Linked DNA regions of Homo sapiens. The protein of the gene in region 3 purifies or fractionates together with the protein of the main gene of each other region. This does not show direct contact. Each region holds a gene or a part of one and is shown on either strand. Other genes may lie near its edges. The genes, in order: TMEM98, PRMT2, MYRF, ACKR3, PCDHGA5, ZDHHC11 and OSTM1.

Region 1 (4,121 bases), on a different chromosome or scaffold from region 3:
TGGGATTACACGCGTGAGACACCGAGCCCGGCCTTAAAATAGCTTTTTAAACCCTAGACAAAAGGAAACATTTTAACTAGCAGTTGTTTTCGCAGCCATAAAAACATGCACAAAAGAACACCCATTAAAGAGAGGAAAGATGAAACTGTATTTACTGAGGATCTACTCTGCACCAGGTTCTTTGTTAACTTTTCCAACAACAATCTTATGAAGTGGACATATTAGTAATCCCATTTTACAGTTGAGGAAACTGAGGTTCAGGGAGGTTACAGAATTTTTCCAATATGCAGTCAGGAGATGGAAAGCCATCCACTTACACTGAGATGGACATTCACTCTACTTTTCCTTTCTAAGGAAGAAAGAAGACTGTAAAGGTTCTGGAAAGAGTTCTAATTGCCAGTTTCAGTGTTGGAAACTTAGAACTGGCATTAAAGTGTCCATTGCCTCTTGCCAGTTTTCACTCAGGAGACTGTTTCACATCTATTTCTTTTTCTCATAGAATTCTTTTATTTGTGTACAAAAGAAGAATGAAAGAAGTCCGTGCATTTGTATATACTAGTGCACAGAATTTTTTTAGTATGAACACATCGATAGGCACAAACACACATAAAATGTAACTTGATAACAGTAGCTGCCTCTGGAGAGAGGAACTGAAGAACGGGGTCTTTCACACCTATTTTAAACTCATAAGCCAGAAGAACAAGGGCATCTCACAGAAGTACATATTCACTGTTATTTCATTGTAGGCCTCCTGCTTGTCTCTCTTTGTGCAAGCATTCTCCCCTCTCTGGGCTTTAATTTCCCCACGTGAAAAAAAGACACTCTGACTTAGGAGTCCTTAGAATACCAGGAGGGTGCTTTTCCTCTATTTGCACTTAATTCTATCCTCCATGTCTCGGAGGGTCCAAACGCTCTCGGTCACCATTCACTAAGTATTTATTGATCATCTACTATGCATCATGCACTGGAGATTGGAGATAGATAGGACAGAGACCCTGATCTTAAGGAGTTGGTGGGAGAGGCAGACAGGTGACAAACCACTTCAACTCCATGTGCCTGTGCTTCCTGCAGAAGAACACAGAAAAGAGAGTAACTGTGCTTGCATGACACTTTCTGGGAACTGACACTTTCACAGGAGTGGTGAGGCTAGAGCTGGGTTTTGAAGGATGAGCAGGAGTTTGCCAGGTAGACAAGGTTGGGACATGCCTGGCTTAAAGTGCCAAGGAAGCCTTTCTCAAAGGGCTCACAGAGCTGCTCTCCCATCTCGAGCTCACTGGACCACAAGAAGGAGAAGGCTGGCATCTGCCTCTTCTGTGTGTGTCGCTGATTTTGTGAGAGGTAGGTGGGGGAGGGGGGTAATTCTCAGGGTCCGCCTCTGTTTCTCTACGTGTGTGTTTCTCTTTACTGTCCTTTTAACCACCTCCTTTTGGCCTTTGTGTTTTCTGCCTCCTCTTATGTCTGCCTTTATCTCTGTTTCTCTTTCCAGGCATCTTTCCCTCTGCTGCTCCCGTCTCCCGCTTCTCAGTGTCTCTCCTTCCCCTCCCCCGGTCCCCAGGCCTCCAAGACCACCCACTTGGTTTCCTCTCTCTTCCTGTGCGTTCTGAGTGTTTCTCTGATCGTGTTTCTCTGGGTGTGTGTGAGCTGAGTGTGCTTCTAAGTGTGTTTCTCCGTGTGTGTTTGTGTTAGTGTGCGTGAGCTGTTTTTCTGTTTCTGTGTGTGTGAGCTGTTTCTCAGAGTGTGCTTCTGAGTGTGTGAGCTGTGTTTCTCAGAGTGTGTTTCTGAGTGTTAGCTATGTTTCTGAGTGTTTTCTGAATGTGCTTGTGTGAGCTGTTTATCTTGAGTGTGCTTGAGTGGGTGTGAGCTGATTGTGTTTCTCAGAGTATGTTTCTGAGTGTGTGTGAGCTGAATGTTTCTCCGAGTGTGCTTGTGTGTGTGAGCTGAGTGTGCTTCTGAGCGAGTGTGAACTGTTTCTCGGAGTGTGTTTCTGAGTGTGTGTGAACTGAATGTTTGAGTGTGCTTCTGTGTGTGAGCTGAGTGTTTATCTTGTGTGCCTCTGAGTGCGTGTGTTTCTGAGTGTGTGTGAACTGAATGTTTCTGAGTGTGCTTCTGTGTGTGAGCTGAGTGTTTATCTTGTGTGCTTCTGAGTGCGTGTGTTTCTGAGTGTGTGTGAACTGAATGTTTCTTAGTGTGCTTGTGTGTGTGACCTGAGTGTTTATCTTAAGTGTGCTTCTCAGTGCGTGTGAGCTGAGTGTGTTTCTCGGAGCGTGTGTTCGTGGTCCTTCTCTGCAGTCTGCGTGGCGTTTCTTTGTGTTTTTCTTTCTCTATTCTTCCCTGCGTACTGAAGAGTAAGTTTTCCTGTTTTTCTCCGTCTCTTTCTCTCTCCCTTACTTTCCCCCTTCCCCTCCGGTTCCAGAACCACAAGGACAGAACAGACCCAAGACCCTACCCGCTTCCCCGTGCTCGTCCACCCAGGACGCCCACTCTGTCCCCGGGAGGGAGGGACCCCCAGCCCGCCCGGGACGCGCCGCACGGGCCCCGGAGCGCTCCGGGGCGCGGCTCCTACTCCTTTCCCCAACTTCGGGCGCGCGGCCCCGCGGCAAGAACAAAGCTGCGGCACCCGCCTCCCCTCTCCCCGGCAGCCGGGCCAGGCCCCGCGCCCCCGCGTCCCCTTCCCCGACTCGCCGCGGCCCGCCCGGCCCGGCGGGGCTCACCCACCTCAGGCTGTGGCTCCCGGGCGCATCCCGCGACTGCCCCGCCGATGGCAAAGTCCGGGCGCGGGCGCGGGCCTGCAGCGGAGCATGCCGGGAAGCGCCGCGGCCCTAGGAATCCAGCCTCGCGCCCCCGCGCCCCGGCCCCCGGCCCCCGGCCCGCGCCAAATCCCCGCCGCCAGGCGCCGCCGTCACCGCCAGGCCCCCCGGCGGCCGGGGCAGCTGGGAGGCGGGCCCTGGCGACCCAACACCCCTTCCTCGCGCCCCCGCGGTGGCCCGTCCGGGCGGCAGACGGAGAGGGGAGCGGAGGGTCCCTGCCTGCGCCCCGCCCCGGGCTGGCGGTCCCAGGCGGCGAGCGCGGATGGGTACCGCAGGGGGGCTGGCGGCGGAGCCAGTGTGCTCCGCCACGGACTGTCCCATTGAAACCCTGCCTCTGCCACTCACTAGCTATGGACAACTTAGTTCAGCCTTTGTGCCTCGGTCTGTAAAACGGGGCTGCTGCTTGTCAGCATCCTCAGAGTTGGTATTAGGAATGATGGGATGCAGGATGCATCGGACTGCCTGGCCCAGGGTAAAGAGTGAATCGAGGGTCGCTCTTATTTACAGCCTGACCCACGGGTCAGTGAGAAGCAGGCCCACCCCTGGCGACTGCCTAGCCAGGGGCAAGAGTACAAATGCAGAGCCCTTGCTAGTAGTCTTGCTGCTTCTATTCCCACACGACTCCATCCCATACATACTGAAGGGGGTCTACTGGTTCAGGCAAACACACACCCCCTACCCTGCCATCCTTCATTCTAACGATACTCAGGCCAGGCAGGGCAGGCTGCCCTGGGTGGATGGAAGTCAGACCTTGGAAGCAGGCTCAGGGCTGTTTACACAGGGATTTCCGGAGTCCAGGGTACCAGGAGCATGATCTAGAAGGGAACATACGCTCCAGCTGGAGTGGGCCAACTAAAGCACGGGGTTCAGGGCAGGATCCCAGTGGTCCAGGTCTGAGGTCAGTATCGGTGACAGTTAACAAAGGATACAGATTGGGTCCTAGGCCGCTTGACACAGGGTCTGCAAACTGGTACCCCCAAGGCCACATCCAGCCCACAGAGGTGGTTTTTTTGGTTCATACTTTTGTTGTTTTATTTTAATTTTTTTGAGACAGAGTCTCAGTCAGTCGCCCAGGCTGGAGTGCTGTGGCACAGTCTTGGCTGTTTACGGGTGGAGGGTGTCCAGGTTCTTGCCTTTATTTATTTATTTATTTATTTATTTATTTATTTTTTGAAACAGAGTCTGGCTCTGTTGCCCAGGCTGGAGTGCAATGGCACGATCTCAGCTCACTGCAACCTCTGCCTCCTGGGTTCAAGCGATTCTCCTGCCTCAGCCCCCCAAGTAGCTGGGATTACAGGTGTGCGCCACCACGTC
Region 2 (2,976 bases), on a different chromosome or scaffold from region 3:
GGGGTGAGGGGTGTGACCAGAGTCAGGGAAAAACTGGAGACCTGAGGAGCCCCCCACTTCACTGCTGGCCCCACCGTGGACAGTGGGAGTTTGAGGGAAGACAGAGCCTGAGGAACTTAGAGATGTTTCCAACGCAACCCAGTGCAGAATCATAGCGTTTTACTATTTCCCCCCAAATGTGACAGTTGTCCTCACCTTGTAACCTTCACAGAAGCGACTCCTTGGACCTGATTCTGTCTGTGTACACCACAGTTTAACAGCAGGAGCTAGATCACCAGCCTCTGCAGCTTAGGCAAGGGTGCAGGAAGGGGTTGCACAGCCGTCCTCCTGGCGGGCCGGGGAGTCGACACCACACGGGACCTTTAGTGCAGCTGTGTGTCCCCTGAGCTCCCGCATCCTCTGGGCCACCCAGGGTGAGCCGTCCACACCTCCTGGAATCTGAGTGGTCTCAGGAGCAAGCTTGTGTTTGGCATTGGCAGGATCTGTCTCACTAGCGTAACTTTGATCCCAGTGTATCCCATAGAGTCCCTTTAGATCACAGGGCTGGGGGTGTATATGTTCCCTGAGTTAGCCTGAAAAGCCAAGCTTTGTGTCCCCAGGCCCTCAGGGTGGACTGCCGGCTGTGTGGGTGCTGTTGGGGGCGAGAGCCAGTGCGAGCCTGAGTCAGCGCCCCGAGGGCCATGTGGAGACTGCCCTAGCTCAGCCTCCAGGTCACACGCACCCCTGTCTTGCAGCACCACACACTGGAAGCAGACGCTGTTCATGATGGACGACCCAGTCCCTGTCCATACAGGAGACGTGGTCACGGGTTCAGTTGTGTTGCAGAGAAACCCAGTGTGGAGAAGGCACATGTCTGTGGCTCTGAGCTGGGCTGTCACTTCCAGACAAGACCCCACATCTCAAAAAGTAAGATACGTAGTTGTAAGATTCTGTCCTGTGGGTGCCGGTCCTCAGGGAGACAGGCCTGGGTGGTGGTAGTGATGGCAGATGCTGGCCCACACTGGGGTCCACGCCTTTTGTGCAGGAGTGATTTAATCCTTACACAGAAAGCGCCTGTTGTCATTGGCTTCATTTCCCATCTGACAGCACGGGAAGTGGAGGGCTCTGGAAGGGAAGTCAGGGAAGTCATTCCCTCAGGTGACACGGTAAGTGAGGGAGAGCAGAGACCCACATCAGCCTGAGGCCCCTTGTGCCATGTCCAGAGGGTCCCCCAGATGGACAGAAGCCTGAGCTGTGCCTTGGCGCTCCCTTTACACAGGCCTCTGTGGCTTCCCAGGCAGCAGTTAGTCTAGGCGTGTCGTCTGTGATGCGTGTTCTGACTGGCAGCCTTCGGATCCGTGTGTGAATTCATGTGTAGCTCGCCCAGCTCACTTGGGCTTCCTGTCTCAGAGGCTGCTGAAAATGGAATGTTCTTCTTTGGGCTCAGGATTAATGTGGCAAAGAAAATAAAAATAAATGGTTTTCCTTCATTTTTTATATTTGTTTTGTGCTTTGCTTTGTGATAAGTTTTTGTTAAAAGTTTGTCATTTAAAAAAATTCTGCACCTGAATACTGTTCTCTTGTCCAATATTAAACCATTAGGAAATGTAGTATGTTAATCAAATGATTTATCATCTGATTGACCTGTTGTCATTTATCTTTTTCAGGTTGGAGAAAAAGTCTTCCCCATCTGGAGATGACAGTTGATGCTTTATTTGGAAAGCAGTGTGCATATCTTGAGGGGTGATGAACACAAGCAAACCAAGTTGCACCTGGCTTCTGCACACTCCTGCGAAAGTCGGTGAACATTCACTCCACATTGACCCCTCCCTAGCCTGGCAGGTGACGTCAGGGTCCTTCACAGACAAACACGCTTGGGCTCGGCAGGAGCTGCCGTGGCCACCCCCGCTGCCCAGTGTCTGCCCTCTAGAAGTAGGCTGTGTTTCCAGGTGTTCACCCGTGGTGCCCACAGTGCCGACCCGTGGCTGGGTCGGAGCTCCATGTTCCTAAGCTAGGTCTAGGTCTACACTCCTAGGACGCACGCATATCAGCCCGTGTACCCTGTGACAGTGACTGTCCCCACCTCCTATGTTAGTGGTGCCCTTACTGCCGTCGCTCATCCACTCGTGTGGGACGTAGGATTGCACAGGGCTGTGCCAGTGGCGTGTAGGGAACACTGCCCTGGCTCAGCGTGCGAGCTAAGGTGGTGATGTATGCGATGGGACTCTGCATGGGATAGTACAGTTGTGTAGACGTCTTCCAAATAAATTATGTGTTGGTCCATCGCACATGCTCAATAAATATTTTTAAATGAGTGAATGTCATTGTGTATCCTGTTTTATGCATATATGTTATTTTTTGTAATTACAGGATCATACTATATGCATTGCTTTATAAGTTTTTCTCAATATTGTGAAAAAACTTCCACATCAGTAGATACATGTCCATAATTTTTTTTTGTATTGTTTTGATTTTTATTAAATTTTATTGAAATATAGGCTGGGTGCAGTGGCTTACCTCTGTAATCCCAACACTTTGAGAGGCTGAGGTGGGATGATTCCTTGAGCTCAGGAGTTCAAGACCACCCTGGGCAACACAGCGAGATACTATCTCTACAAAAAAAATAGAAAAATTAGCTGGGCATGGTGGCGTGTGCCTGTAGTCCCAGCTACTCGGGAGGCTGAGGCGGGGGGATCACTTGAGCCCAGGAGGTTGAGGCTGCAGTGATCTAGGATTGCACTGCTGCACTCCAGCGTGGGTGACAGAGCAAGACCCTGTCTCAAAAACCCCAAAAAACAAAACTGAAATATCAAATATATATTGAAAACAGTGCTAGTCATGGGTACATAGATGATGGCATTTTATAAAGTGGACGCACATGTAACCAGCATCCAGGCCAGGACACACTACAGATTCCCCGATTCCCCTTCCACTCAGTGCCCACCCTCTCAAGGGTGATGTCCTGACTTGTAACTGTCGATTACTCTTGCCTGAATG
Region 3 (4,266 bases):
AAGCCAGTGCATCCTGCCCGGTGGGTCCCCTCTCTGCAGGCCCTGTGCCCGCCGATCTGGGCTGCCTTGCCTCTCTCTAGGGGATTAGCCGGGCGGTCACGGGGGCCCGGCTGTACCAGCCTCGAGGGGGCCGCTCTGTCCCGGCCTCCCACCTGAGGTCCAAAGCGCCTTAGCCCCCAGCCCACCACCGGCACAGGGCAGGACCCAGCACCTATGCTTGGTGTGTGCCCAGGGAGGGGGACCACGTCAGGTGAGGGGGCGCGCTGTGCTGCAGCCCCTTCGGTAAAACCCTTTCCCAGTCTCCCAGCCCAGAGCCGAGAGCACAGGGACTGCTACCCACTGTCCAGAGGGATGACCAAGGCCAAGTGGGGACCAGGATGAGAGCTCAGGTGTCCCCAGCCCCAGCCCCGAGTGTGACAGCACTCAAGAGTGACGCAGCCACGGCTCAAAAGCACAACTTCCCGCTCCCTCGCACTTCACACACTCACAAGCACACCAGGCCCTGCCACTCCCAGGCCTTCTCTCACACCTACAGTGGGTCCCCCACATGGGCCTTCCCCTCCCAAGTGGCCTGGAGACCCTAGGCCTCAGGGGCCACCCACACCTTCCCCCATCGCAGGGGCTGGGAGCTGTTTCCAGCCCAGCCCTCCTAGACGGGCAGCCTCACACCCCTCCCCTGCTCCCCACAGACATTCTTGAGTCTCCTCTTATCTCTCTGGAGGGAGTAGCGCAGCCTCCCCCCGCCAGGCCGCTGCATGGCTAAGCCGTGGCGTCAGCCCCCACCCCCCAACCCATGGTCAGGAGGGAGCCAGGGAGTCCAGGCCAGCCAGGCCCACCCCTCTGCTCTCTGTCAGGGCCCAGCGTCCTGGGGCAGGCAGTGTGGAGGTCAAGGGAGCCTGGCCTGCGGGTCCTCTGGGTACCTAGCAGGCTCAAGGCACTCCAGACAGTAACCCAAGCAAGCACGAATGTCTGGTCCCCTCTTCCCTGAAGGTCTCAAACCGCGTCAGGCCCCTCGAGAGCTCCTATGGATCAACAGTGTCTGGGGAGAGCCAGAGCCCCGGGACAGATGCAGGGCTGCCTAAGACCCTCAGATGGCCCACCTGATGCAGAGTCAACCATTCAATCTAGTCCAAGCCTGAACTCTTGGGTTCTGGGTCTGTGGGGTGTCCAGAATCCTGGAGTGGGATGACTGAGGCTTAGGGGTGCCCCTGCCTGGGCTGCTCAGCCAGCAGGTGTGAACAAGGGTTCCTGCCTCCCAAGTCACAGAGGGAGAGAAACTGAGGCACCGGAAGACCTGCTTCTCTCCTCCACAGGACTCCACAGGAATCTGGGGCTTGAAACTTGGGCCTTGGTTCCCTGCCCTGTAGCCCTGATAGGTTCACACATGAAGGGAAGGTTCTCAATGCACCAAGGAGCAGGATGTGGCCTTAGGGACTAGAGGGAGCTCGGGGCAGGGGCTGGGCTCGCTGCATTGGTAGACAGGGGCACAAAAGGGGGCCAGAGGGTCTGGCTAGATGTTCCAGGGAGGTTCTGAGAAGCGGAGTGGGCTGGGAGGCAGTCAGCCAGAACTTCCCCTCCCCCTCCCACTGCGGTCCCATCCCTCCAGAACCCAGCACCAGGAGGAGTGGTGGCCCTGCAGGAGGGGCAGGGGTCGTCCAGGAAAAGACAGGGAGTTGGTTAGATGGAGGAGCAGACCTCCAAAACCAATGTAGGGGTGGGGGCAGAAGAAGATATTATGGGGTGTATGTCAATTCCACCCCAGAGGGCTCCTTTCGGTCAAGTGGGGGTGAGGTCACTCTTTGAGGGGGCGAGGTCAGAGAGGCACAGCTCCAGGGTTGGGGGGACATAGTGCTGAGGAGCCTCAGAGGGCTGGTGGGATGCAGTTCACAGCACTAGAAGGGTCTCAGAGAGCAGAGGTGACCGGTGGCAGGGATGTCAGCTTCAAGAAGGTTCCAGCCCCAGGAGAGCATGCTAGGGAGGGGGGTCCCAGCCCCAAACAGGAGAGCAGTCACTAGGCAGCATTGTGGAAAGCAGGTGGCAGTCTCCAAGGGGATCCAGGCTCGAAAGTGGTCCTACCCTCATGGAAGCACAGTGGGGAGGTCCCAGCTCCTAGAAGTCATGGGGGATGGCGCCAACCAGAAGGGCACACAGGGGGTCTTGGTCTCTAGGCGGGGGTCACAGATTCTGGGAAGCAGGCTGGGGTCCAGCCTCAAGAGGTACGGAAGGTCCTAGAAGGCACACCGGGGGTCTGGGCCTTGAATGGGGTTGTATCCCGCTTGGGGTTCTGGGGAAGCAAAGTAGAGGGTCCCCAGACTCGGGAAGTTTGCTGGGGGCGAGAGTGTCACAATTTAGGGAAAGTTCCGGGTCCTGGAAGGCTCAAAGGAGTCCGGACCTGGAAGGGGACACAGTCCCAAGGAAGCTGCGAGTTGAGGAGCGGGGAGGGGGAGCCCAACTTCAGCGGCGGTGGGTGGTAACCGCTGGGGGACTCCCAGCCCCGGGAGCCTGTCTTGGCGGGCTGGTGCCAGCCTGAAGGAGGGTCCCAGCCAGAGGAGGCGGAAACACAGCGAGGAGCCCCAGTTCCCGGGGAGATCAGCCGGGGGTTCCCAGCGCCAGAGGGTCGCCGCCGCCAGCCCGCGGTCTCTCACCTTCGAAGAAGCGCTGCAGCGCCTCCGTCTCGTCCACCACCTCCATGTCCCGCCTGCCCGGCGCACACTCCAGCCGCGGCCCCGCTACAGCCCGGCCCGGGGGCGCGGCATCGCCGGCGCGGCCCGCGCGACAGTCCCGGCTGGGCTCCGGCTACGGTCCCGCCCGGTCCGCCGCCGCGCTTGCCCCCCGCGCGTCCCTGGCCCGGCCCCTGCCCGCCCCACGCGCCCCGCCCGCCGCGCCCAGCGCCCCCTGCCGGCCCGCGCCGCGCCCAGCCCGGCCGCGGGCACCACGCTCCCGACTCCTGCAGGCGGCGCTCAGCGCTGGGCAGTCCTAGGCTTGCGGGGCGCGGGGCCGTCCCGGGTCGGGGGACGCGAGACCGTCCCAGGCTTGAGGGGCGCGGGGCCTTCCCGGGTCGGGGTGGGGGCGAAGGGCCGCTTGGCCTCTGTGGGGTCGGGACTGGAAGGGTGTGCCCTCGCCGTCCTCGCCTTCGTCTTGCACGGGACAAGATGTCACGATTCCGAATCCAAACCTCAGAGACAGCCCCCATCCCTCTCGTTAGCCACCCACACACCCCGCTCAGCAACAATAACAACCTGCATTTAGGGAACGTGTGTTATGTGCCAGGCCACACAGGCATTATCTCATGTACTCCTCACAGGCACCTTATCAAGGAGATGCTGTTGTTACCTGCATTTTACAGATGGGGAAACTGAGGCTCAATGCATTAAGGACTGCCAGGAAGCCCTGTCCTGTGGCTGTGATGATGGAAATGTTCCCTGTGTTGTTCAGTATGGTAGTCACTGGCCACAAGTGAGCACTGGAAATGTGCCTATTGAGACTGAGGAACTGATTTTTTCATTTTGTTTAATTGTAATTAAACAGTTACGTGTGGCTGTGGTATTGGACAATGCAGGTCTAAAAGCTCCTTTTTTTTTTGAGATGGAGTTCGGCTCTGTCGCCCAGGCTGGAGTGCAATGGCGCGATCTCAGCTCACTGCAACATCTGCCTCCTCGGTTCAAGCGATTCTCCTGCCTCAGCCTCCCCAGTAACTGGGATTACAGGCGCCACCACGCTGGGCTAACTTGTATTTTTAGTAGAGACGGGGTTTCCTCATGTTGGCCAGGCTGGTCTCGAACTCCTGACCTTAGGTGATCAGCCCACGTTGGCCTCCCAAACTGCTGGGATTACAGGCATGAGCCACCGCTCCCCGCCCTGCCTAAGAGTTTCAAGGTCATTAAAGTTCAGAGCCAAATCCTGGCTGCCCCGGGAATCCGAACTCTCCTTTGCCGTGGCCCTGTCTGGTATAATGAAACCTGGAGGTTCTAACTCGATATAAGTCCAGGATAAAGCGGTTGTCCTTGTGCCCCTGCCTTCACCCTTATGACTGACTGCCTCCACATCTCTGTCCTGCCCAACTTGCACAGCCTCTCGTCTCACTGATATCCCCTTCAGTTCTCCCAAATCACCCTTTCTGAAACATACATCCGATCATGTCATTCCTTTGCAAAACTAAGTTTCCCTTTGCACTCAAAACAATATCTGAATGTCTTGCTCTGGTTTCTCAGGCCCCGCCTCTACCACTGGCCTCAGCTCTTCCCCTCTCTCCATTGCTCACTGAAT
Region 4 (3,030 bases), on a different chromosome or scaffold from region 3:
TAAATGAAAACTCTCAATAGGAAATATTGCCCCTGGAGGTGTTTACCTTAGCAGATGAGATTTAAGGGGCTGTGCCACTGGCCCTGGAAGCACACAGGTGGTACAGATGAGGACACCAGTCCTGCACCCTGAAACTCTCCTGTCTGGACGGAGAGTTCAGACAGGTTCAGAACAGAGATGGCTCTGGCCAGCAGGAAGTAGAAGCAAGTGGCACCTTCTCTGTGCCAGCCTTCTCTCCTAGCTGGACCCTAGCAATCATCCCCCACACCAAAAACACTATTGCCTGAAAATTTTTTTAAAAACCATGCAGTGTGCTCAAATGATTTTTTCTTTTTATATCATTTCAAACAAGTTAACCTGGTAGCTTTTGCTTTACAGCAGCACTCTTTTTCTGAGCATGTTCATGCAGGTGGCCTGTGTGTGCCATATATATCCATGAATTATTATCATGTGTGCTATTCAAGTGCCAAAACACACTTTGAAAACTGAGACTTGATGCATTTTTAGGAAACAAAAATCTTTATTAAAAAAAAATAACTTACAAATTGAGAGAACTCTCTGAAATGCAACTGTTCGTTGTGTGTGCAGATTTGCAGTCCAGAACAGTTTTTTGTTTATTTTAAAATGTAACTTTACAATACTATTAATGTCACAAACTGCATTACAAAGCAGTTTTCGTTCCATATCCCGTGCCGGTACAAAACACCACACAGATATAAAACTATGGTAAATAAAACATTTCAGCCAAGACTGGCATATATTTATATATTTATATATATTTATATATATATAATTTCAAAACAGCTAACAATTAGTGTCATCCTTAGTCAAAACTGAAGTCACGCTAACCTTAAAACTACAACACTCTGAATATATGTCAGCACTATGCCTCCCAAACAATATTTAAAATATATTTAACTTTCAAATACATTTATAAGGTACACCAATAGTGAGAAAATAAAGTCTTAAAATTTAAATACAAATCACCATATAAAAAATTCAGGAAACACAGAAAATCCTATCTTACAGAAGTCCAGGCAAGCCTGTCCTCAGCTGGCTCTGACGCACAGCACTGCTGTGCGACACAGCTCTGCCTGTTGCAAAACTGTCAGCACGCACAGCCAAATGACAGCTGCGTCATCAAGAGAAAGAGAGAATGGATGCAGGGGGCACGTGCTCCCCTCTTCACTCTACTCAAGCATCAAGACCCGAAGCTACTTTGCTTTGCTCTAGAAAACCATAGGGCCCATCACCCTGTTCAAAAACAAGTAAACCCGTCCCAGAGCCTCTCCAGGGCAGATCATTTGGTGCTCTGCTCCAAGGCAGAGTACTCCGTCTCTGAGACTCTGGAGGCATCGATGAGCTTGGTGAGCCCTGTTTTGGCCGAGTACTTGAAGATGAAGGCCTTCATCAGCTCGTACCTGTAGTTGCGATTGATGAAGCTGTAGAGGACAGGGTTGACGCAGCAGTGCACCAGCGACAGGCACTGTGTGACATGCAGGGCCGTGAAGAGGGCGTGCTCCAGCCGGCAGGTGAAAGGGATGTAGTGCAGGATGGAGAAGATGTCCAGCAGCACCGCCACGTGGTAGGGCAGCCAGCAGACAAGGAAGACCACCACGTAGGAGAAGATGATCTTCCGGCTGCTGTGCTTCTCCTGGTCACTGGACGCCGAGATGGCTCTGGCCAGCAGGAAGTAGAAGACAGCGATAATGGAGAAGGGAACGGCAAAGCCCAAGACAACGGAGACCAGCTCCATGCCGATCAGCCACTCCTTGATGCTGTGCTCGGGGTAGAAGGACCGGCAGTAGGTCTCATTGTTGGACGCAGACGTGACGGTCTTCAGGTAGTAGGTGTCAGGCAGAGACACGCAGAAGGCCAGCAGCCACACCAGGATGCAGACGACACGGCGTACCATCTTCTTCCTGCTGCTGGGGGTGTTGGTGAAGTAGGTGATGGAGAGGTAGCGGTCCACGCTCATGCACGTGAGGAAGAAAATGCTGCCGAAGAGGTTGATGGAGAAGATGAGGTGTGTGACTTTGCACGTGAGCTCGCCCATGGGCCACTGGTTGTGCTGCACGAGACTGACCACCCAGACTGGGATGGTGAGGACAACCCACAGGTCGGCAATGGCCAGGTTCAAGATGTAGCAGTGCGTGTCATAGCCTGTGGTCTTGGCCTGGATATTCACCCAGACCACCACGGAGTTGGCAATCATGCCGATGACGAAGATGAAAATGTAAATGAAGGAGAGCGTGTAGAGCAGGACGCTTTTGTTGGGCATGTTGGGACACATCACCGTGTCCACCACGATGCAGTCGCTGCTGTTGCATGGCCAGCTGATGTCCGAGAAGTTCCCTGGCTCTGAGTAGTCGAAGAGATGCAGATCCATCGTTCTGAGGCGGGCAATCAAATGACCTATGAGAAAACCAAGCAAACAAAAAAGATGGAAGAGGAAAGTCACTTCATTAGGAAAAACTCAAGTTTCAGGCAAAAATGCTTTTCCAAGGCCCTGATAGGCTCAGCTGTTTGGGTTTAGCTCTGTAATGTCTTTGCAAAGAAGGGAGAAAAAAAATTCATAATAAAACTCTCCAAAACAAAATAAATCATACTCTGAATCTAAATCCATGTGGTGCTCCAAGACAGAAACTGTGTTTGCTTTCTCCATCTTTTCATGGCTGTGTTCTCAAGACACCGCCAGCATGGCTGTGCCCAGTGTGTGAAATCAACACAGTACAGGGGCCAAAGAAACGTCAGGCAGCTGAGCCCCGGCCACCGCGATGCTGATGGCCTGCTCACTCTCAGCAGGGGACAGTGGAGCCATTTTATCTAGGTCCCCAAAGAATGGCAGGGTTGTCCTCTCCTGGCACTGCTGTATTACAAGTGTCCTGCTTTGGTGTCTTAATGAAAGCATTTCAAATCCTCCTCCAAATTTGCATTTATAATGTGACTCAGCACTTTTTACTTGTCTGCTAAATTCACATATAAACCTGGGTCTCAGGCGGCCCCAGTGTGCAGTCATAAAGCCTCTGG
Region 5 (3,500 bases), on a different chromosome or scaffold from region 3:
TCTACCTGAAATTTGTTTAAGGAAATAATTTACAGTATTTACATAAATCAGTGGAAAGGTACAGAGAACTTCTGGGTCATAAATATCAGAAAAGAGGCCGGGTGCGGTGGCTGACGCCTGTAATCCCAGCACTTTGGGAGGCTGAGGTGGGCGGATCACGAGGTCAGGAGATCGAGACCATCCTGGCTAACACGGTGAAACCCTGTTCTACTAAAAATACAAAAAATTAGCCGGGCGTGGTGGCAGGCGCCTGTAGTCCCAGCTACTCGGAAGGCTGAGGCAGGAGAATGGGGTGAACCCGGGAGGAGGAGCTTGCAGTAAGCCGAGATCGCGCCACTGCACTCCAGCCTGGGAGACAGAACGAGACTCCGTCTCAAAATAAATAAATAAATAAATAAATAAATAAATAAATATCAGAAAAGTAGATAAAATTTATATTAATGATAACATGTAGCATTCTAAAGTCTGGAAAGTTTGTGTTAAGCCATGTAGTTATTGGATATGTGGGCTTGTTGAGAGAAGAAATCAGTGTAAAGGAACCTTAAGGTTGGGCTTCGTTCTGTGATGTAAAGCCTCCAGAGAGTTACATACTGCTGCACTCAATAAATGTAAATATGTCACACACCTGGCATCTTCTGTTATAGATAAACCCTTTACTTATTAGAATCAATACCTACTGCAATGTTAGCGTTTCTTTAAGTGTAGGTGCAATTCTTCTTTATTACTTGAGTTTAAGGTTGTATTTGAAAAAAAAAGAACTCAACTTAAAGATGGTTCAAAATTTTAAATTTCATATCTAACGTATGTGCTCATCTTAAATTAATAGATTTGTCTTAATGAAATACTGGCCTATGTGCCTCAAATTCCAGGAGGATGTGTTATGTAATGAAAGAACTACTATATTTCCCTTCTGCATCTGATTTGCTGAAGATGATTTTCAGATGTTTCTTATTAAAATATTCTTAATCCTTCAAATTTTGTACTTTTAAAACCTTGAGCATCAGCTTCAAATAATGACTAAATAAGGGGAAAAGGTAATAAAATATTACAAATGGGATAGTAAGCTACATTACTCAACCACATGAAAGGTTAATTGACACATTAAAGAACCTAAGACCACTTGATTTTTATTTTTTAAACACTGTTAAAGAGCATTCAAGTATATCTATATCTATATACATATACACACACATATATATACACACATATATATACACACATACACACACACAAACACACATACATACACACATGGACATTCTGACCAAAATGTAAAATGTACAAACTCACCGAATAGTGAATGCATCCAAAGAGTAACAAGAGAATCTATACAGTAGGTGTCGACATTATTCACTCCTATGTGAAAACTTGCTTTTCCATTTTTTTTAAAAGAAAATGTTATATGCTTCTTAGGGTAAGGTGTTTGGGAAAAAAGTAAAGGTTATAGATTTGGGTACATTTCTTCTGAGTTAAATGTTTTGTGCAATGGAAAAATATCTTTAAACCCTCTATAAACTACTAACAGACTATAAAATGCTTGATCCATACATTTTGAATGTATGTACTGTATATACCATATACTTTTAAATATCTGAATCTTTAGTTTTATATGTGTTCTGAAGAATAATTTTTCATACTAATTGAAGTGTTCATACAATGAACACTTGGCATTGTGTTGGAAGGCACTTGCTTTGGAATGTTTTGGAGCAAAGTCTTGAGTCAGTTATATTTTTGATGTTTGTATAAAGGTGACAATGAGTGTCTGTCTAGAATTCTGGTTACTGTGAGTAGTTTAAGATGCTATAATGCTTTTCCACTATAAGGTGAATTCGGTGTGGAACTCATTGCTTATTGCTGCACACTTGCCTAGTTTTAGAGTAACAATACATTATGTAGGCTAAAGATAATTTCTTTAGGAAGATTTTCTGGTTTGAAAATGGAATTAAAACTGTAAGACACCTGTCAGAAACATGGAAAATGGCATGTTATTGACCAGGGAAAAGTGTAAATAACAAAAAGTTAGGATTATCAGATGGTAAACTGGGGACCAAGGAAAAGTGGACAGGAAGATTACTTATATAATTAAATAATATAATTATAAGGACTTACAATTCACTCCCCAATCCTAATAACGCATCATTGTTAGGCTACTTGAGAAGAAACAGTACATTTCAGGACAATTGTGATGTAGTATGAAAAAACATCCTTTGTAAAAGTTTTTCATTTGGGCCAGGGTGGTTCATGACTATAATCCCAGCAATTTGGGACGCTGAGGTGGGAGGATTGCTTAAAGCCAGGTGTTCTAGCCCAGCCTGGGCAACATAGTGAAACCCCACCTCTATAGAAAAAAAAAGTTTTCAATCATACTTATTTAATTAAAAGTAGACACTTGGAAACAAAGGAAAAGAGACCCTCTTGCTTTTTACTATACTTCTATTTTATAAGGTCAATCATTTCCTCATTACCTTTAACTTCTTTTGGGGGGAGATAATAAAGATAAAAGAGAAGAAAGTGAAACATAGAATAAAACTAAAAGCTATGACATTATAACTTTTAGAAGTTAGAAGTAAAGGAAATAGAATGCAATAAGAATACACGTGAAGCTGATATTTCAAGCCTCTTTATACTACGTCTTCTGCCATCACCAAAAATAGCTTCCATTTGTATGATTTTCTATGTATTATTTTATTTGGCCCTCATTTCTACTAGAGTAAGCAGAGAAGATATTATTATGACCATTTTATGAAAATGGAAACTAAAAACGTGACGGGATTGAGCAAGATTATCTCTGCCCTTTGACAAGTAAAAGGTACTTGATTTGGATGGATAAAGCTCAAATTAAAAGAAATAACAGACTAAAGATATAGTAAGTATATTTAATGTTTTTTAAAAGTCCTTTTAAAATGGGAAGAAAGTATCACTATCAGTACACTGCCGATTTTTCTCCTAACTAGCTCCTTATTTGGAGCTGATTTAGTCACCATTACTGCAGTTCTGCAGCAGAGGCGCCGGGTGCCGCTCTTGGCTAGTGCTGTGCAAAATATTGGCTCCTCCCGCTGCAGCCAGCTCGGAAGAAAAGTGCACTCTCTATCAGGCTTCCTGCAGCGGAGACACCCATTAGAGAACCCAAGCACAAAGACAAAGCAAATAGTTGGTCCTGCTCGGAGAACTCTTGGGATTATTTAAAGATCTCCTCTCCTCGGATTTAGAAAGGCAAAGGCGCAGAGAGCGGGATGGGAAATAGCTCCGGATGGAGGGGCCCAGCAGGGCAGAGGCGAATGCTATTTCTCTTCCTGCTCTCTTTGTTAGACCAGGCTCTCTCCGAACCGATCCGCTACGCTATTCCCGAGGAGCTGGACAGGGGCTCGCTGGTAGGGAACCTCGCCAAGGACCTGGGGTTTGGCGTGGGGGATTTACCTACTAGGAACCTGCGGGTTATTGCAGAGAAGAAATTCTTTACCGTGAGCCCCGAAAATGGGAACTTACTTGTGAGCGACCGT
Region 6 (3,500 bases), on a different chromosome or scaffold from region 3:
CCTGATGCAGACAGGCCTCCCTACCAGCCAAGGAGCACGCGGGCTCGGTCCACTCGGGGGGCCCTGAGCATGGTCTGTGCTGGGGTCTCCATGGCACCATGCTGGGCAAAGGCACTGAAGCCAGGGAAGGGGAGAGCCACGAGAGTGCCGTGGCACCCAGGAGGGCCTGCAGGCTCAGGGACCTGGATCTCTGCACCCAAAGGGAACTCGGGCTGAGGAGGCCCTGGAGGAGCCCGGCCACACCTCGGCTGCAGTCCCCCCTTCTCCAAGGGTCTCGTGCAAATCTGAGCCAAAAGCGATGTCCATGCTGTAGACGTGAGACCAAATCCACTCCCAGTCTCTCGTCTTTGCTCAAAAGATGCAGAGAATAATCCATCCACAAAAACCAATTCTGGGCAGCAGTTCCTGGAACATACTTTGACTAAACCATCTTCCCTTGGTCTTTCTGCCATGATGATATTTTTTTAAAAGTATCCTTTAACCTCCTTTAATCCTTTCCATTGTATTATGTTCACCTAAGCTTGTTTAAATCCCTTTTTCTATTTTCAACTGGAGGCCAGAGCATGAATGCCGCAGTCCTCCGAAGAGGCAGTTAGGGCACAGCTGCCTTCCCCGCGCTCCTCCTCCCTCCAAGAGTCTTCTGGATAATCCAGGGGTGACGGGTGGCTCCAGGCATGAGCGGCTCCCTGACTGCTGCTCCCTCATACTGCCTTCCCTCTCACAGCTTAGGTTTCCCAAGCAGCAGCCCCTCCAGGCAGCGGACACGCCCTACCCTGCCCCCAGTCCTCCTGGGCTTGAGCCCACTTGTGGGGAGTAAAGACCCCTCATCTTCATCCTACTGTCTGGACAGGACTCCCCTCTTCATCCAGGAAAGAAGGCGGGTCTCTAAGACCACAGAGACAAAAGCCCACAGGATGGGGCAGAGCCATTCACGCGGGGCCTCCTCTCCCCGCAGCCACCCAGGGACATTCTCCTCTTGGTTAGCACAGCCTCCTGCCCCTGCTGCCTGTGTTTAACCTGCAGAGTCCGAGGCCAGCGCTCACAGTCTTCCCAGGACACCAGCGCCGCCTGCCTTCTTTCCGTCCCCCTTCCTCTCTTATCACTACGAAGTATGCAGCCTCCCTCACAGGGGCTCTGCCATCAGCTGGGCCTCCCCATGGGGGCTCCGCCATCAGCTCGGCCTCCCTCGCGGGGGCTCTGCCATCAGCTCCTCAACTTTCCTCATCTTGCTCTCAATGCCGTTGCTCTCTCCGCCTCTGGCGGATGAAGGGACAGAAGCGAGGTTGGCACAGATGCCGGCGTTGGCTGCTGCCTGGAGCTGAGGGCGCCCATGACCCCGGCCCTGCTCTCCTGATGCCCCTTTCCCACACCCAGGCGGTGTCTACACTTGGCACCCACGTGGTCCCTCTCCAGCACCCCTCCTGAGGAAGGCAGACCCTCTCCTTGCCACCTGCCTGTGGGCCCTCACCCCCTCACCTTCCCCACCAGGACCCGCCAGATTGAGCCAGCTCGAGGCACCAGAGCAGAATGAGTCCAGAAGGAAGTGGCACCTGGGGCTAGCATGAGCCAGAGGAGCTGGCCCCACCTTGGCCATCGTGGAGCTGCTCTTCTCCAGGGGAGGAGGCCGGTGGGTCTCCCCGGCCCCTACCATCTCACGCAGCCTCTGGACTCGCTGTGCGGTCATGCAACCTCTCTGTCCCTGCCGGGCTGCTCAGCCTCTCTGGACACATGCTGTGCTCCAGACGGGATGGCAGGGAGGCAGGGCAGGGACCGCCCGGTGCGTCCTGTGACACCAGGCAACGTTGGTCCCCACTCCCACGCACACCAAGGCCTCTTTCAGGTCAGCACAGAGTAGCTGGGGAGCAGGCGTGGTTCTTTTCCCTGGTGATCTTCACAATACAGTGCTGCAGACAGCCGGGGCTCAGCACACGGGGCCTTGAGAGTCCCTGGATCCTCCACTGTGCTCAGGGGAAACACCTCTCATCTATGAGCCTCCACCGTGCTCAGGGGAAACAACCTCTCGTTCTTGAGCCTCCACCGTGCTCAGGGGAAACACGTCTCATCTGTGAGTCTCCACCGTGCTCAGGGGAAACACCTCTCGTTCTTGCACCTCCACCATCCTCAGTGGAAACACCTCTCATCCTTGCGCCTCCACCGTGCTCAGGGGAAATACCTCTCGCCTGTGAGCCTCCACCATGCTCAGGGGAAACACCTCTCGTCCTTGAGCCTCCACCATGCTCAGGGGAAACACCTCTCGTTCTTGAGCCTCCACCGTGCTCAGGGGAAACACCTCTCGTCTATGAGCCTCCACCGTGCTCAGGGGAAACACGTCTCATCTGTGAGCCTCCACCGTGCTCAGGGGAAACACCTCTCGTTCTTGCACCTCCACCATCCTCAGTGGAAACACCTCTCATCCTTGCGCCTCCACCGTGCTCAGGGGAAAGACCTCTCGCCTGTGAGCCTCCACCATGCTCAGTGGAAACACCTCTCATCTGTAAGCCTCCACCGTGCTCAGGGAAACATCTCTCTTCCTTGCATCTCCACCGTGCTCAGGGGAAACACCTCTCGTCTATGAGCCTCCACCGTGCTCAGGGAAACACCTCTCATCTGTGAGCCTCGACCATGCTCAGGGGAAACACCTCTCGCCCATCTGCGCTGGGTGCCCACTGCCCTTCCGTGGCCCCACCCTTGTGCTGGATGAGCCTCAGCCTGGGTGGAGAGAAGGCAGCCCAGCCCAGGACAGCGTGGTCAGGAGGCCTCAGCCAGCGTGGCCCCGCAAGTGCCCCCGGGGGGCCTCCAGGGACTTACTCTATGCGGATGAGCTTGTCCAGGGACGGCTGCACCACAGCCCCAGAGCCAGACAGGAGGCCGGGGCACGCAGGCACCAAGCGCCACCACATCAGGACAGGGACGCGGCCCCAAGAGGACCCTCCACCCTTTCAACACGATGACCCCTGCCCACAGACCCCTCCCTTCCAAATTCCCCCAAGCCTGGCCCGTGCCGGCCATCCCCTCTGTGCCCCTCACCAATAATTCCGGCTTCCCACGCAGTTGTTGATCCATTTGCAGTGGTGGTCGAAGCCGGACACACACTTATTGCAGGAAATGCAGTGTTTGGTTTTCTTGTTCCTGGAGGGATGAATCGGGGAACGCCTGTCAGGCCCCAAGTGCGCAGGTTGGGGCAGGGCCAGAGGTCCATCACTGGAAGCCAGGTGCCTCGGAGGAACCAGCCCTGTGCGGCCTGGGGAGAGGGCGTCCAGCAGGGAATGGGAGGCTGGGGGAGGGTGTTGAGGCCTGTGGGGAGGAGGAGAAGCAGGGCAGCTGTGGGCAGAGGTAGCCACAGAGCAGGAGGAGCTGTGTCTTTGGCCGCCCTGAGCATAGACCCCCCGCCAGCCGTCCTACACCAGCCTCACTCTGGGCCATGGCCCTGGAGGAGGCCGCGCCTGCCCCATGGTTCCAGGAGTTGAGGCCGGGGGCTTGGATCCCACCTGTGCCTACAG
Region 7 (3,500 bases), on a different chromosome or scaffold from region 3:
ACATATTTTCAAATTTAAAAAGATTAAAATGTACCAAAGCATCAACTCACTTATGAAGTACCTAATTAATTTCTGTTTTATTTTTATCCTAACCATGAGACTACTAAGGAAATATCCATTTTGGTTTAACAGACCAGGATATTCTAAAACTTTACTACTTTATAACTAGTTATTTTTGGTTGAGGACAGAATATGCAGATTCCACCCTATCACCAAAAATAATAATCATACTGAAGGTACATTCAATAACACTCTAAAATATGTATCACATCAGAAGCAAAGTACTTACTGCATCTTCCACATCAATGCATAAATGTGTTCCAGGTTCAGCCTTATTCTCAAGTTCATTCATTTTTTGCATTTCACTGTACAGACTACTCAGAGTTTTGTATGCTTCACGGCAGTTTTTGCATACTTCTGAATAATTTTTTGTCTGTAAAAGACTATGTGCATTCCCCTAAAATGACAAAGGCACATGTAATATATACAATAAACATTATATACAATATCTCTTTAATGTAAGCTATTTACGCTTCTAGAAGACGGGAAACAATATGGTGTGTTAAAGTGCTAAGCTGTGATGTTGAGTAGGTTACTAAATCACTCTGAGTCTCAGTTTTATCATCTATAAAATAAAACGACCTCTACCTGTATTATAAGTCCGAAGGATTAGAGACCCGGTATGTGAAGCAGATGGCAAACTGTTTGGAACTTTCTAGGTGCCTCTAAATTTTCAAAACTGCTGCATTAGCTAATGTTAACTGAGGATAACAATAATTCATATGCCAAATGACTAGTAACTAAATACAAAATTTCCTAAATTATCTCATCATCACAAACCCTCACTTATCTATCCTACTCTCACTGAATAAATAAAATAGGTTCCTGCCTATGCTGACTTGAACACCATAGTTTATCTTACTGAGACAGAACTTTTTAAATGGAAAGGGAAAAGGCACCAAAACTGCATCCCCACTCAACTCTCTTATCACAAGGCTCATAATCCAGGCCTTTCTAGTCAACAAAAAGGGCCAAATACCAAAGAATTGTATAACCTAAAATGAGGATAGTGGAGGTACATAAAATATTATGCTACTAAATCTCAATATTTTGTACTTCTAGACTGACACTTGTCTTTTCAAGAATAAGTTTGCTAAACAGTCAGTTCACACCTTTGCTTTCTATGCCCTTTATTCTTTACTTTGTAGTATGAAGAAAGAATATTAACTGAACATTGGGATGAAAGAGAAAAGAGAAAAATCAAAGTAATTACACTGATGTTGGCCCAACAATGTTACCCTCACCATCTGCTTGACAGAAAAACTAAGTCTCTCCTTAGTCTGCTACAAGAAATAGCCCATTGCTTGTTTTTCACAGAACAATTGTGCACTTAGTTAAAAATTGAGCACAGGGCTGGGCGCGATGGTTCACACCTGTAAACCCAGCACTTTGGGAGGCCGAGGTGGGCGGATCACAAGGTCAGGAGATCGAGACCATCCTGGCTAACACGGTGAAACCCCATCTCTACTAAAAATACAAAACTTAGCCGGGCGTGGTGGCGGGCACCTGTAGTCCCAGCTACTTGGGAGGCTGAGGCAGGAGAATGGCGTGAACCCGGGAGGCGGAGCTTGCAGTGAGCCGAGATCGCGCCACTGCACTCTAGCCCGGGTGACAGAGCGAGACTCCGTCTCAAAAAAAAAAAAAAAAATTGAGCACATAATCCATTTAACTAAAATTGTGCACATAATCTAGATGGGGAGTAATTTAACCTTTTTTTTTTTTTTTTTTTTTGAGACACGGTCTTGCTATTTTGCCCAGGCTAATTTCTAACTCCTGGGCTCAAATGATCCTCCCACCTCAACCTTCCAAAGTGCTGGGATTACAGGCAGGTGCCACCATACCTGGCCACAATTTTTATTCAAATTTAAAATGCACATATCTTTTAATAATGTGAAAGTTGCAGACATTAGGATGAAATCACCTTTTGACAGACCAAGACAAAATAGAGACAAAAAGAGTCCTTGTTTCCAAAGACTTTCTAAAAACCCCACAAGAAATCCTTTCACGCCCTTCATTGCAACTCCTGCTTTCACATGGTTTATCACTGCCATTCTTTAGGACTGCAGTAATTCAGATAAGATGCACTCAAAAGAACACTTGCCCAGTAATGGCATCGCCACCAATGAACTGACAACTTGGCTTTGAGCCTCAGGAACCAATGAACTCAGTTTCCAAGCAGCTTGTGTGAACCTCTCCCTTTTTGCTAATAAAAGCTTCCCTTTACCCTTCCCTCACTGGATGTACTGGTGGTTTGCCAGTGCATTCCAAATTACCATACTTCTTTCTTATTCCCTAATAAACTCATCATATTTGGAGATAATTTTCTCTAGTGTCTTTTTCTTAGGCTGCCAATATAGTAATTCTACTTCTAGAAATCTACCAAACTCATACAAGTACTCTAAGTTAAATGAAAAGAAGACTGTTTATGGTGTACAATTTAAAACTTATTATTTCCAGAATTTTCCATTTAATATTTTTGGACTGCAGTTGGCCACAGGTAACTGAAACTGTGGAAAGTGAAGCCATATATAAAAGGGATGACTTTATAGAAAAATTGCTATTTGAGTGTTACAACACACATCAGTCCACTAAAGGCTCTGAAGTCCTGTAGTAAAGCATTTCCCAACCTTAATGGAATACTAAACCCTTTCTGATAGGACATCTATTAACATGCTGCAGAACAAATTCTGAGAAATGTTCACCTAATTTTTTTTATTTTATTTTTTTGAGACAGAGTCTCTCTGCAACGCCCAGGCTGGAGTGCAATGGCACGATCTCAACTCACTGCAACCTCTACTTCACTACAGGCGTGCACCACCAAGCCTGGCTAAGTTTTGTATTTTTAGTAGAGACAGGGTTTCACCATATTGGCCAGGTTGATCTCGAACTCCTGACCTCAAGTGACCTGCCTGCCTTGGCCTCCCAAGGTGCTGGGATTATAGGCATGAGATACTGCACCTGGCCCAATTTTTATTATTCTCAAGGAAATTCATAATTCAGTGTTACCACATTTATTACAGAAGAAATCATACATGCTTATACCCTAAGCATGTGTACATCTACTATGGGGATTACTTACTTGTTATGTAAGTTTCAAAACTACATTTTAACCAGAGTTCCAACCTCGTCCTTCACCACGACCGGGCAAGTTCCAATACCAAAATTCAAGAGTCAGAGATAGAGATGGCAATAATCTACAAGGTTAAGATTCTTAAAGCTACCTTTTATTATCATAATTCAATACTCAAAGTTATCTTACTAAACAGTGCTTTTTAAGGTAGGTAAAACATACTTAAGCAAATTTCAGGCAAAGAATAAACTTCCTATAGACAGAATCATACTACACTGCAAAATACCTACGTAAGTCAGATTGAAAACCATTGTGTTTTAATTAAACAATCACACACCTCAATCAATGTTTTCACAATCATTATCTCACC

The links.
Region 1: the proteins of MYRF (region 3) and TMEM98 purify together in Homo sapiens (co-immunoprecipitation; one large-scale study listed by IntAct). This does not show direct contact.
Region 2: the proteins of MYRF (region 3) and PRMT2 purify together in Homo sapiens (co-immunoprecipitation; one large-scale study listed by IntAct). This does not show direct contact.
Region 4: the proteins of MYRF (region 3) and ACKR3 purify together in Homo sapiens (co-immunoprecipitation; one large-scale study listed by IntAct). This does not show direct contact.
Region 5: the proteins of MYRF (region 3) and PCDHGA5 purify together in Homo sapiens (co-immunoprecipitation; one large-scale study listed by IntAct). This does not show direct contact.
Region 6: the proteins of MYRF (region 3) and ZDHHC11 purify together in Homo sapiens (co-immunoprecipitation; one large-scale study listed by IntAct). This does not show direct contact.
Region 7: the proteins of MYRF (region 3) and OSTM1 purify together in Homo sapiens (co-immunoprecipitation; one large-scale study listed by IntAct). This does not show direct contact.

Annotation. Positions count from the first base shown.
Region 1 is NC_000017.11:32,926,832-32,930,952, reverse strand, and holds the start of TMEM98 (transmembrane protein 98), read right to left. Parts: upstream 2,801-4,121; 5' UTR 2,716-2,800; intron 54-2,715; exon of another isoform or gene 1-53. UniProt on the Homo sapiens protein: Functions as a negative regulator of MYRF in oligodendrocyte differentiation and myelination. Interacts with the C-terminal of MYRF inhibiting MYRF self-cleavage and N-fragment nuclear translocation.
Region 2 is NC_000021.9:46,662,649-46,665,624, forward strand, and holds the end of PRMT2 (protein arginine N-methyltransferase 2), read left to right. Parts: intron 1-734; coding exon 735-906; intron 907-1,646; coding exon 1,647-1,679; coding exon of another isoform or gene 1,680-1,726; 3' UTR 1,727-2,476; downstream 2,477-2,976. UniProt on the Homo sapiens protein: Arginine methyltransferase that methylates the guanidino nitrogens of arginyl residues in proteins such as STAT3, FBL, histone H4. Acts as a coactivator (with NCOA2) of the androgen receptor (AR)-mediated transactivation.
Region 3 is NC_000011.10:61,751,170-61,755,435, reverse strand, and holds the start of MYRF (myelin regulatory factor isoform 2 precursor), read right to left. Parts: upstream 2,801-4,266; 5' UTR 2,692-2,800; coding exon 2,646-2,691; intron 2,568-2,645; exon of another isoform or gene 2,077-2,567; intron 1,408-2,076; exon of another isoform or gene 991-1,407; intron 59-990; exon of another isoform or gene 13-58; coding exon of another isoform or gene 1-12.
Region 4 is NC_000002.12:236,579,825-236,582,854, reverse strand, and holds the end of ACKR3 (atypical chemokine receptor 3), read right to left. Parts: intron 2,416-3,030; 5' UTR 2,390-2,415; coding exon 1,301-2,389; 3' UTR 501-1,300; downstream 1-500. UniProt on the Homo sapiens protein: Atypical chemokine receptor that controls chemokine levels and localization via high-affinity chemokine binding that is uncoupled from classic ligand-driven signal transduction cascades, resulting instead in chemokine sequestration, degradation, or transcytosis.
Region 5 is NC_000005.10:141,367,162-141,370,661, forward strand, and holds part of PCDHGA5 (protocadherin gamma-A5 isoform 1 precursor), read left to right. Parts: exon of another isoform or gene 1-622; intron 623-3,080; exon of another isoform or gene 3,081-3,233; coding exon of another isoform or gene 3,234-3,500. Other genes in the region: PCDHGB3 (protocadherin gamma-B3 isoform 1 precursor), read left to right, coding at 3,234-3,500. UniProt on the Homo sapiens protein: Potential calcium-dependent cell-adhesion protein. May be involved in the establishment and maintenance of specific neuronal connections in the brain.
Region 6 is NC_000005.10:844,487-847,986, forward strand, and holds part of ZDHHC11 (palmitoyltransferase ZDHHC11), read right to left. Parts: intron 3,295-3,500; coding exon of another isoform or gene 3,130-3,294; coding exon 3,028-3,129; intron 1-3,027. UniProt on the Homo sapiens protein: Endoplasmic reticulum-localized palmitoyltransferase that could catalyze the addition of palmitate onto various protein substrates and be involved in a variety of cellular processes.
Region 7 is NC_000006.12:108,050,742-108,054,241, forward strand, and holds part of OSTM1 (osteopetrosis-associated transmembrane protein 1 precursor), read right to left. Parts: intron 458-3,500; coding exon 290-457; intron 1-289. UniProt on the Homo sapiens protein: Required for osteoclast and melanocyte maturation and function.